Linked DNA regions of Homo sapiens: region 1 is linked to region 2. The links come from fine-mapping of genetic effects on gene expression. A gene starts in region 2. The other region holds a variant in brackets. All regions are shown on one strand. Distances are between the middles of the regions. Region 1 overlaps TGM3 (transglutaminase 3). Region 2 holds the start of TGM3 (transglutaminase 3).

Region 1 (5,000 bases), 25 kb before region 2:
ATTATACATAAAACATTGGAGAAAGTCTACAATAATTCTATTTTCTTAGATATCCACCATTAACAGTTTGGTGTATGTGTTATATATATAGTGCATACAAACTAAGTTTTATGTTACTTATTTCTATAATGTTTTTATTTTCTATCATGTCAATTACTCATTACTTCTATAATTAGAAAATATATGTAAGTTGGATGATCATAGCTAACACAGTGTTAACACAGAAAGTTGAGTCCTGTGTTATTGCATATATTAACTTATTTAATCCTTACAACACCCTAAAAGACAGAAATGATTATTATTCCCCATTCAACAACTCTGGAAACTGAGGTTCAGGGAAGTTAAGTGACTTGAGAAGGTCTTACAGTGAGTAATTAAGCAGAGTGGGATTTGAATCCAGGCAGCTGGGGTTAAAAAAGGGAAACAGGTTAACAGTAGATTCCATTTTATGTAACCTGACTTTACATAGGTTCCATTCCATATAAGAGAATATGATGCACTTACGACGTATTTGAAATGATCTTATTTTTGAAGATTTTTTAATGACATAGGGAGAATGCTCATGATATAATGTTTAGTAAAAAACACATGACTAAAACTAATGGTGAAGTGATTGGTTTCGAGGTGTGGGAAAAAGTGGGATGTGTCTATTATATGCTCCGTCTTCTACTCATGCCTTGGAAAATGTATCATCCCAATTCTGTAAATAACAATAACTCAGAGAGAAAAGATGAATGGAAAACTACCAAGTGTTGAAGATATGTGAATAAGATCAGAAATGATTTTTATTTCTGTATGTATTTTGAATTTTTTTATAATTATTTTTAAAAGGGCATCATAAAAATGATCTCCAGGATCCAGGGAGTCTTTTTGAACAGGCCTTCATGATCGGTTAGAACTCACCAAGGAGAAGGCAAGGGAAGGAGTGTGGGAAGATGGTCCCAGGTGGGTGAGAGGAGCAAGGGAGGGATGAGAAAGTGAATAAGGACACCAAGTTTCACACTCAATTTGCTCCTGGCAGAGCACCCAAGGGGAAGGGCAGGCTGGTTAAAAAAAAAAAATTGATAAGTAGCTGTATTTTAATACTTGCTTGCAAGGCAGGAATTTAAGGCAGAGCAGATAACAACTGCATCCTGGTTCCTCCCTCATGCAAAAGCCAGCCACTTCAGTTACACAGAAATATTTGGGATGTGCATCTTTCCAATGCCCAGTGGCGCCATGTGGAAATTCCGGTGTGGGTTTCTGGTTGTGTGCCACGCTGTCTCCCACCCCCCAACCTCGGGCTCCACTCCTTTCCTGAGGGTTTCAGGAGCATAAGCTCAGGAGAGGACAGGCTGCGGGCATCAGAACTATCCAAGGCATTTATTAAAAAGTGCAGATTTCCGCTGCTCTCATCTTTCCCCACACAAATTAATTCTCATGCAGTCTTTGACGTTTATAAAACACTGCTCTACAGACACCAACTGAGCTATGCTTACCTTTGAAATCACAGAGTTAGGAGACCTTGCCTAGAAAGTGGCCCCAAACCCTGCCCTTCTGTAGGTAAACTCCCATTTGTCCTCCCAAAGTTTGTTCAGATACTACCTCTGCCAAAAAAGCCTTTCCTGACACGCCAAGAGAGTGCCAATAATACCTCTGTGCTGTCTCTGACTCTTGCAAATAATTCATTGATTTCATTGCTACTCCATAATTGCCAAGCTTTTAATGCAGCTGTAAACTCGTCTATTCAGTCTCTAAGGCCTAGTTATAAAACAAAACAAACAAACAAAAACCCTCCTCCAGCACAGTTCCTGCATCTTGTTCCTCTTGGTGCCCGGAGTCCAGTGCAGATGTGCATGGAATCATGTTTGCTGAATTGAGTTGTTTCTGGGCTGAAACCACTCTCTGTCACTTCCTCACTAAGGGCCTAGGAGCCAGTTCAGGATTAGTGGAAGCAGGTATTCAGAGGCAGAGGCCGTGGAGAGATTGCATGAGGAGCCAGGGGCTTGGCTGAGGTGTGGGTGCTGACAGCTGGAGGCACTGCCTGACTTCACCTCCCTGGCAGGGCTGGGCAGTCTCTAGGCACCTTCTACCTCAGAGTTCTGCAAAGTCTACAGGTAGAGTCAGATCTATGACTCTAGAAATTGGGGGATCAAGCCAAATGAATGAAGAAAACAAGCCAGAAAAGTCAAGATAACTTTGGCTAAACTGTTCCAAATCATTCGGCTGCTGCTCGGTGGCTGAATAGGCTCCAGAGACTTCCTTTGCAGTGGACCCGAAGGAGGACATCTCAAAGAAGCATCCCAAACTAAGCTCCCCC[G/A]AAAAGTGTCCTCACTCTGAAGAGAGTGAATACTCCGGAACTGCGTGACTCTTAAGCCAAACCATTGGCACGAGCAGAGTGGCTTAGAAAAAAATTTACCCCACTGGCTGCTGTGAATCTGATTAAAAGAAAGGCCTAGAAAATGTCACTGAGGTCCCCTGATCTGGCCCTTTGTTTTACAAGTGGGAAATTGAGGTGTAGCAAAGGCAAGGAACTTACATAATGTTATGCGCTTAGAATGTCTACATGTCTCCCGGTGTTTACCCTTAGACAAGTTACTTCTCTCGGGGCCTTTGTTTTCTCATCCATGAAAAATAAATTGGGGATGAAAATAACAATGCCTACGTCATTTGTGAAGATGAAATCTAAGCACTTATAACAGTACCTGGCACACAACAACTGCTCAACAAATTATTAGTTGCTGCTGTTACTATTACTAAGCACTTCTAATGCTTAATCTCCCTTGATTCTCACATTCTATTACTTTAGGCAAATCTGGGCACGGTTCTAAAGCTTTCAACACTTTTTGGTAACATACAAAGATTCATGTCAGAGGTTTTCTGTCCAAACTCCGGTTGCCCTTATAAGAATAGCTTAGTAATTTCACGCCAGGCAGAAACTGGCTCTTGGTTTAGCTCTCCCCTGCATGGGATTCAAGGAGGAAGGAACAGCAGGGCTCCCTTGGGAGGGCTAGCTCCCTTATAGAAAGTGGAGTGGGCTGAAGCTCCCGAGAATTTAAACATTTAAGCTGGCAAAGGACTTAAGAAATCATCTAGTCCTAGGCCAACCCTTATATTTCACATATGAAGAAACTTGGGACCAGGAGGATAAATTGCCTTGCGCAAGCCTCACAGCAATTGGGTGGTAGGGCTGGAGCTAGTGCTTGGGACTCCCTGTCCTCATGCCCTCCAGGGCTGGCTCCCCCAACCATCAGCTGTAGGGAATGGTGTAGGGAGTAACTATCAGCTCCCTTGGCTTTCTGAGAAGGTTCAGAAAAGGGGAGAGGAAGGGAGGGGTGACAAGATCCTCAGGAACAGTCAGAGCTTCTGCGCCTGGCCCCCTCCCATGAGGCCACAGAAATGACCACAGAGCCACCCTGGAATGTCTCCATCAGCTCCTACTTGTCCCAAAGGTGATGTTAAGCTGATGTGGGGGGCAGTGTGAATCACTAACCAGGAGACCTGGGTTCTAATTCTAAATTTAGCTTAAAAGCCTCACTTTCCTGTTTCCAGGACGCCTTCCTTGAGGATTTCCTCCGAGTTCCTGGTATCCCTGTCTCAGTCACTTGCCTGGGCATCACACACCATGCTGTGTTGCTAATTAGCCTCTACTAGTGGCCTCCCCACCCCGTGCCTCCTAACAGCACCATAAAAATGCTTTCAGTGGAGGAACTGAGACTTAAGCTTTCCACGTCCCTGCAGTTCCTAATGTACAGGATAATCACAGAAAGGGTATGCCGAGGGGACCCCCAACTTGTCTCACCAACCATCTCCTTTTGTAGAAGAAACTAAAGTTAGGAATGGCATAGCCCCAGTGATCAGAGCTGGTTGCGATGGGATTTTGGACACAAGAACAAAGAAAAGCCCAGGGAAAAGAAGACACTCATTCATGAGAAGTTGGAAAACAAAGTCTGGCCACAAGTAAGCAATATCATTAGAGAGAAAGTTGTGTATGTGCAGATCAAGAAAGAAACTCCTTAAATAAGCTTTCTCTCCCCTAGTAAAACCCCAGAATCCATTGACTCTGGGGTGAGTTACATAAACCTCACTCTCCTTCAGAAGGGAAGGGATGCTTTTATTACTCAACTCGGTTGCTGGCATGGAGTTGTTATTTATTTGTTTTAACAGTGTTTTCCATTATTATCTATTTTCGTTTCATTTTATACCCTTAGTTACATTAAGCACATTTCAGATAAGTTAGATATACTTATTCTGGGAATGATAAGTAATACAAACATTTTATGTAGACTATCTCAAAATTGAACATCTGAAAATAAGATTACATCTGTCATACGATTATCTAGCCACATACATGCATGTGAGCAATTATGTGTGTGTGTAGCCTTTGAAATGGATTAAAACAATAGATAGATGGGTACTTTATATAGATACATAGATATCTCTGTGTATCTACAGATATAGACATCATTGCCAATTGCCATCCGGTAATAACTTGGTATATGATATAACCTTAAACAGTTGTAACAATGTCTATTTTTATCTATATAATATCTATCTATCTAGTGCTCTATGCAGTTACAGATATATGTCTACACATTTCCTACTTCCAGTGGCATCTATCATTAAATTACGTGTGTGTGTGTATTGATAGTGTGCACATGGCATACTTATGGTTAGGAATATAAATGCCCAAATATATATAAAACATTTTGGCCGGGTGCAGTGGCTTACGCCTGTAATCCCAGCACTTTGGGAAGCTGAGGCAGGTGGATGGCCTGAGGTCAGGAGTTCAAGACCAGCCTGACCAACATGGTGAAAGCCTGTCTCTACTAAAATACAAAAATTAGCCGGGCATGGTGGTGCATGCCTGTAATCTCAGCTACTTGGGAGGCTGAGGCAGGAGAATCACTTGAACCTGGGAGCCTGAGGTTGCAGTGAGCCAAGATTGTACCATTGCACTCCAGCCTGGGCAACAAGAATGAAACTCCATCTCAAAAAAATAATTGTTTTCATCCGGAATC
Region 2 (5,458 bases):
AGACTAATCTCCTTCTCTTGTTGGTCCCCGTAGCACTTGTTTTGTATTTGTCATGCAGCTTAATAACAGTCTGCCTTGCATGCTGCTCACCTAAAAAACCGGTGGTACCAAAAAATATCAGACTAAAAGCTACCGAGGACAGAACCACATCTCATTCACCTCCATATTTCCCACTGCACCTGGCACAGCTCTTCTCCCTTAGGTGTTCAGTGAATAAATTCATTCATCCAAGAAACACTGATTGGGAACTTCCTGGCTGAGTGACTCGGAGCTGAGCTGGGAACTGCAAGTGGGACAAATTTAAGGGACTGAATGTATTCGCCTGTCTCTCCACCACCTTTTCAAAATTGATTTTCTCCCCACCAGCCTCATTCTGTTGTGACTTTAGAACATCTCTGGTTGTTAACAGAGACATTTAATCATGCCTCACAGCGGGCAGGCCATTCCTGAGAGTCCACGGGAGGTCCTGCACAGGGATGGGAGGTGCACATTCCTGGGGGCTGGGCACGTGCCTGTCCACTCCCTGGCTCTGGTTTCTTTTTGTGGAGAAAGAAAAGTCGGTACTGGAAGGAACCTCAAAACGCATTCATTTCAAAGCTTTCATCTTGAAAACTTGAGGCTCAGGGGTGGCAGAGAACACACAAGCAGTTGGTCACAAAGCTCAAATGAGAAGCCAGGTTCAGAATTGCTTTTTTATGTTCCAGATGTTATGTGCACTTATGTAGGAGCTCAGCTCTGGCAGCAGGACATGGTGGAAAGGGCACTGCTGAGACCTAGCTGGCTCTGCGATGGATTCACTGTGTGTAAGGTTCCACCCCTTCCTGGGCCTCAGCCACCTCCTGGAGGGAGGGAGATGGGCTAGATGACATCTGACCTCCCCTCTTGCTGCAGTGTGTAGGGTCCAGAGCTCCTCTTCTTAGCATCCCAGCCATGCTGTACATTACAGCAAGGAATGGGAGACAGGGGAGGGGGCCTAATGTGCAATCACCTGTCCCAGTTTTTGTGGCTTCTGAAGTAGCCAGCATTTGCCTGTTGCATTTGGCTCAGTGATGTCTTTGGCCAATCTTCCAGCAGCCCTAATCGCCATTCACAATATTTTACAAGTTTGACTCATATCTTGTTTGGATTTGGCGTCCCTGTCAACCTACTAGGCTGAGCACACAAGACAGATAATAATTAGCATGCTGCTTAGCAGGGGTGCTGATTAACAAAGGCCCATATCCTCGACAGTAAGCATAGAGTGGGGGAACCTGCACTTCCTGTTGTTCTTTGTAACCCCTGTTCCCTGGTGCTCTCCTGTGGACCAGGACATCTTGTGGCACACCTGCTCCTGCTACGGGGAGGCTTCAGCTCATCAAGTCACTTACACAGAGCCTGTCTGATGCTTCTGATGTGTAGCTTACTTAGGAGCATTCCTAATGCTCCTAAGTAAGTTGATTTGAAATAAACAATGGTTTCTTTCAAATCAACTTACATGTTACCACTCTCACTCCCTGGTAGTTCTGAGATGTGCTTCTTTGCTGACACTGCTGACAGCTGGATACAGCTACACTGAGAAACACGAGACCCGAGTCCTGTCTGCTTTGGCTTTACGGGTGGCGACGGATGTGTAAAAGAAACGCAAACACAAACAAGGCAAAGCTTGTCCTCTGCCTAAGGAGATGCGATGTCCAGCTGCACTGAACACCCTGCCCATTATTCAGAGCTACATTCCAATGATGTTCTACCCCAAGAATATGCTAGAGGGACCCAACCACCACTGAGAAAGAGCCGCCTCTGGCTAGCACCCTAAAATAGGAAGTCTGGCCTTCAGAGCCCCCAAGGCAGGCAGCTGTCCTGGCCGGACACTCTGGCTTGGCAGGCTGGCCCAGGGGAAGCACAGGCTTCTGGCAAGGACCTGATGGAGAAGATGCCATGCACTCACCAGCCATGTTTCGCCTTCCTCTGCCTCTTCTCAGGCTCCTCTGGGAATGGCACGGACAGTGCTGACAGACAGGCTGCCAAGGATTGCCTTACCATTTATAGAATCCTCTCCTACACACCCCAATTAGAATTCTAATGAAGTGGGCGAGGCACCAGGTCATTCCTGTAGTGCCTGTAAACGTTTCACTTACGACAGACTTGTCACCCAATGGACGTGCATCATGTTTGTACAAGACCAGCTTGGGGAGAAGGGGGCAGATAATAAAGAAACTCAAATAGTTCGCTTTTATAATTTTATAAAATGATGGACTATTTCCTGGATTGTAGGGTTTAGGAAATGATGACATGCTTTTCTTGCTGATCCTGGGAAGTTCTCTCTGAATCAAAGAAACGTCTCAGCAGAACCCAGAAGAAGAAAATTGTGAGGTCCTTTCTCATGATACACATGTATTAGCATCTTCCACTTGCACAGGGAAGTGAGACACATCACAGTTCATTTGTTTAGGGTTGTAGTGTGGCATAAACCATCATTTGATTTGGAATTAGAAGCCGTTGGTTCTGATGCTGGCCGAGCCCTGGGTGGTCTCCAACCCTTGAAGCCCGGAAGCCTTGCTTGTGGTTGGGGATAATCACTCCCACCCCTCTCAACTCACAAAGCTGTGGACACGATCACATGAGATGGTGCGCATGGGAAGTGTATGCATATCTACCAGGGCAGGTTAAACTGAGATCACACTTGGCGTTGAATGTCAGTTTCAGTCCAGATTTGGGGGAAAATTGTTGTTTTTAATGAGGCAGCAGGAACAGCCTCTAACCTTATGCTTCTGCCATGTCTTTCTCAGACTGCAGGTTCCGTCACTGACCCTCACTGGGCCCACCTTGACATCAGTTTAAAGAAAGGGTGTGGAGTGGGGAGAAGCTCTGACATTCTACGTGTTTTTGTTTGCTTGCTTGTTTCTAAGGGCGTATGTTTTTTCAAAGTTCCTATTATCGATATTTACAAATATCAAGGTTTACGATGGACAAAGGAGTGAGTATATATTTTTTAAAGTGAGGCTTCAAGGATTCACGAGAGAACAGAAATGCCCCAAGGCTTTCCCCAGCATCACAGTGTGGAAGGAAGATTGAGCACCATGATGACAAGGTTGGGTCTTTAGAGAGAAGTGAGAATGTTTGATCTCGAGAAAGAGAAGACGGAATAGGCAGGTGGCTTGGAAAATTGAAAAAGAGAAATCAGTGTCCTTTCTCCGTCCTTTAGGCCCCTACAGCCTTTTGTACATCTTAGAACCTCTATTACCGTATGTATCCACTGCACTGGAACTATCTGTTTATATATGTCCCCATCTCCAGACTGAGCTCCTTGAAGGTACAGGTTGCATATCATTCAAATCTTCTTCTCAGAATCTAGCACAGGGCTTGACACGTGGCTGGAACATGCACATTCTTGAATAAGTGAATCAATATCACTGTAAAGATGGGAATCATAACTACCGATTTAGTGCTTACTAATAATAACTAATTGATTTAGTGTTTACTGTGGGCAGGCACTGGCTAAACACTTTACATATATTAGCTTTTCTCATCTTCATAGCAACCCTATGCAAAGGGGCTATTATTATTTCCATCTTATGGGGGACAGAGAGATTAACCTGAGTCTCCAACCACGAGATTCATACCCATATGTAAATGGCTCCAGAGCCTGTGTTTGCTTAACCTTGGAGGTCAGCGCCTAAATGAGGCAGCCTTTCCCAGGCCTCTGGGGCTCTAAGACAGCTGGCTGTGCACCCATGCCAGGCAGAATGGGATGCACTGTTGGCTCTGGCAGATGACTAAGAAAAGAGCAGAGGGTAGAGAGGGACATGGAAAGAGCCTGGACCCAAGAGGAGACTCATGTGTGGTCTTGGCTCCTACCACGGGCACTAGCTGTGACTCTGGGCGAGGCCTCATGACGCCAAGTTCATCCTGCCAGAAAGCTGGAGGACAGCTCCATGAATGGCATGGGATGAATGGGTGTGAAAGTGCTCTGTATGCTTCTGTGTGTGGTCTAAAGGAAAGGAGGGGTTTTGCTTATTATTGTGGTTGTTGCTGTTGGCCTGGGAGCCAAGGAAAATCAGACCCCGGGCACTCCTTTCAATGACCTGACAAGGAAAGCTGCAGAGGTGACAGGGAGGTGGTGCTCCCCTTAAAAGGGAACCTGAAGACACACAGTCTTGGCTCTGCCAAGTCTCCTCACCTCTCGTAGGCTTTGTTTCCTCAACTGTAAAACTGAGTGGAATTGCTCTGAGAATCAAAGGAGACAGCAAGTGTAAAAGGTTCAGCACGGCGCTGGGCACAGCCCAGTGTAAAAAGTTAGTATTAATAATATTATATTATTAGCCTGGCCGGGTGCGGTGGCTCGCTTCTGTAATCCCAGCACTTTGGGAGGCCGAGGTGGGACCTTGAGGTCAGGAGTTTGAGACCAGCCTGGGGAACATGGTAAAACCCTGTCTGTACTAAAAATACAAAAATTAGCCAGGCATGATGGTGCGTGCCTATAATCCTAGCTACTCGGGAGTCTGAGGCACGAGAATCACTTGAATCCGGGAGGTGGAGGTTGCAGTGAGCCGAAATCGCACCACTGCACTCCAGCCTGGGTGGCAGAGTGAGACCTTGTCTCAAAAAAAAAAAAAAAATCATATTATTAGCCTGAAAGGCCCCGAGTGCCACAGGTTTTGCAAGGGGTCCCACGGGTTTGGACAGTGGTGTCCGACCACTGACCACCTGGTCTTCTCTAGGAGGGTCTGTAGCTGGTCTTGATCCCAGAGTAATGTAGTAAAAAGACCCCTGAGTTGGAGTCAAAAGACCTGGATTCAAAGCCAGGCTTTGGAACTTGTCCACTGTGTGATGTTGGCTGAATTCTTTTACTTCTTTGGCCCTCGGTATCCTCATCAGCATGATGCACACACCTTCCAGGGCTGTCATGAGGCTGAAAGCCATGGTGACATTGCGGGTATGATGCTCCTCTGTAGACAGGCTAGTGTTACACAGCCAGCTTCCCTTCTACCCTCCACAGCTCCTCCAGCCAAGCTGCCTGTAGTCTTTGCAACTGACCAGCAGTAGGGCCCCAGTAAGAGTCTGCCCTGAGTTACTTAATGTTGGGTACTGGAGGATTGCACCATGGCCGCAGCCACAGCCCCAGCCTGCAGGCAGACTGTAATTTGCAGCTGTGTCACAATTTCAGCTAAATGATTTTCAATTCATAGGTGGAGCCACCCAGCTACACACAGGATGAAATTCCTGCTTGGCCACACTCTGCGCCTCAGACCGCAGTGAAGACGAAGCATGCAGATATGGGCTTTTAAAAGAAGCCAATTGATCACTTGCCTTTTCTCTCCCTCTAATTAAGGGATTTAGGGTTGCTGAAGATTTCACAACATGTGTAGAGACAGAGAATCTTCTGAGAAATCATCCAGCCCTTTCCAGCACGACACATGTCTCTTGACAACTCCTAAGATGGGGGATTTTTTTTTTTTTTTGAGATGGGAGTTTCACTCTT

What was found. PIP is the estimated chance that this variant, and not a neighbour inherited with it, causes the effect. A credible set is the group of variants that fine-mapping cannot tell apart.
Region 1: its variant is the best candidate, but not a certain one, in a credible set for the expression of TGM3 in whole blood (TOPMed, PIP 0.50).

The regions. Positions count from the first base shown.
Region 1 is chr20:2,318,009-2,323,008 of GRCh38, reverse strand. All of the region lies in intron 7 of TGM3 (transglutaminase 3), which reads right to left. Among named protein-coding and RNA genes, the nearest start is that of TGM3, 25 kb to the right of the region's middle. The variant G/A (reference allele first, on the strand shown) is at 2,300.
Region 2 is chr20:2,292,537-2,297,994 of GRCh38, reverse strand. TGM3 (transglutaminase 3) reads right to left here and starts at 1,994. Exons shown (of 13, transcript NM_003245.4): 1 at 1,925-1,994. The coding sequence starts at 1,931. LOC105372503 (a long non-coding RNA gene) reads left to right here. Exons shown (of 3, transcript XR_937203.3): 2 at 705-803; 3 at 1,501-2,174. RefSeq lists enhancers at 224-756, 757-1,290.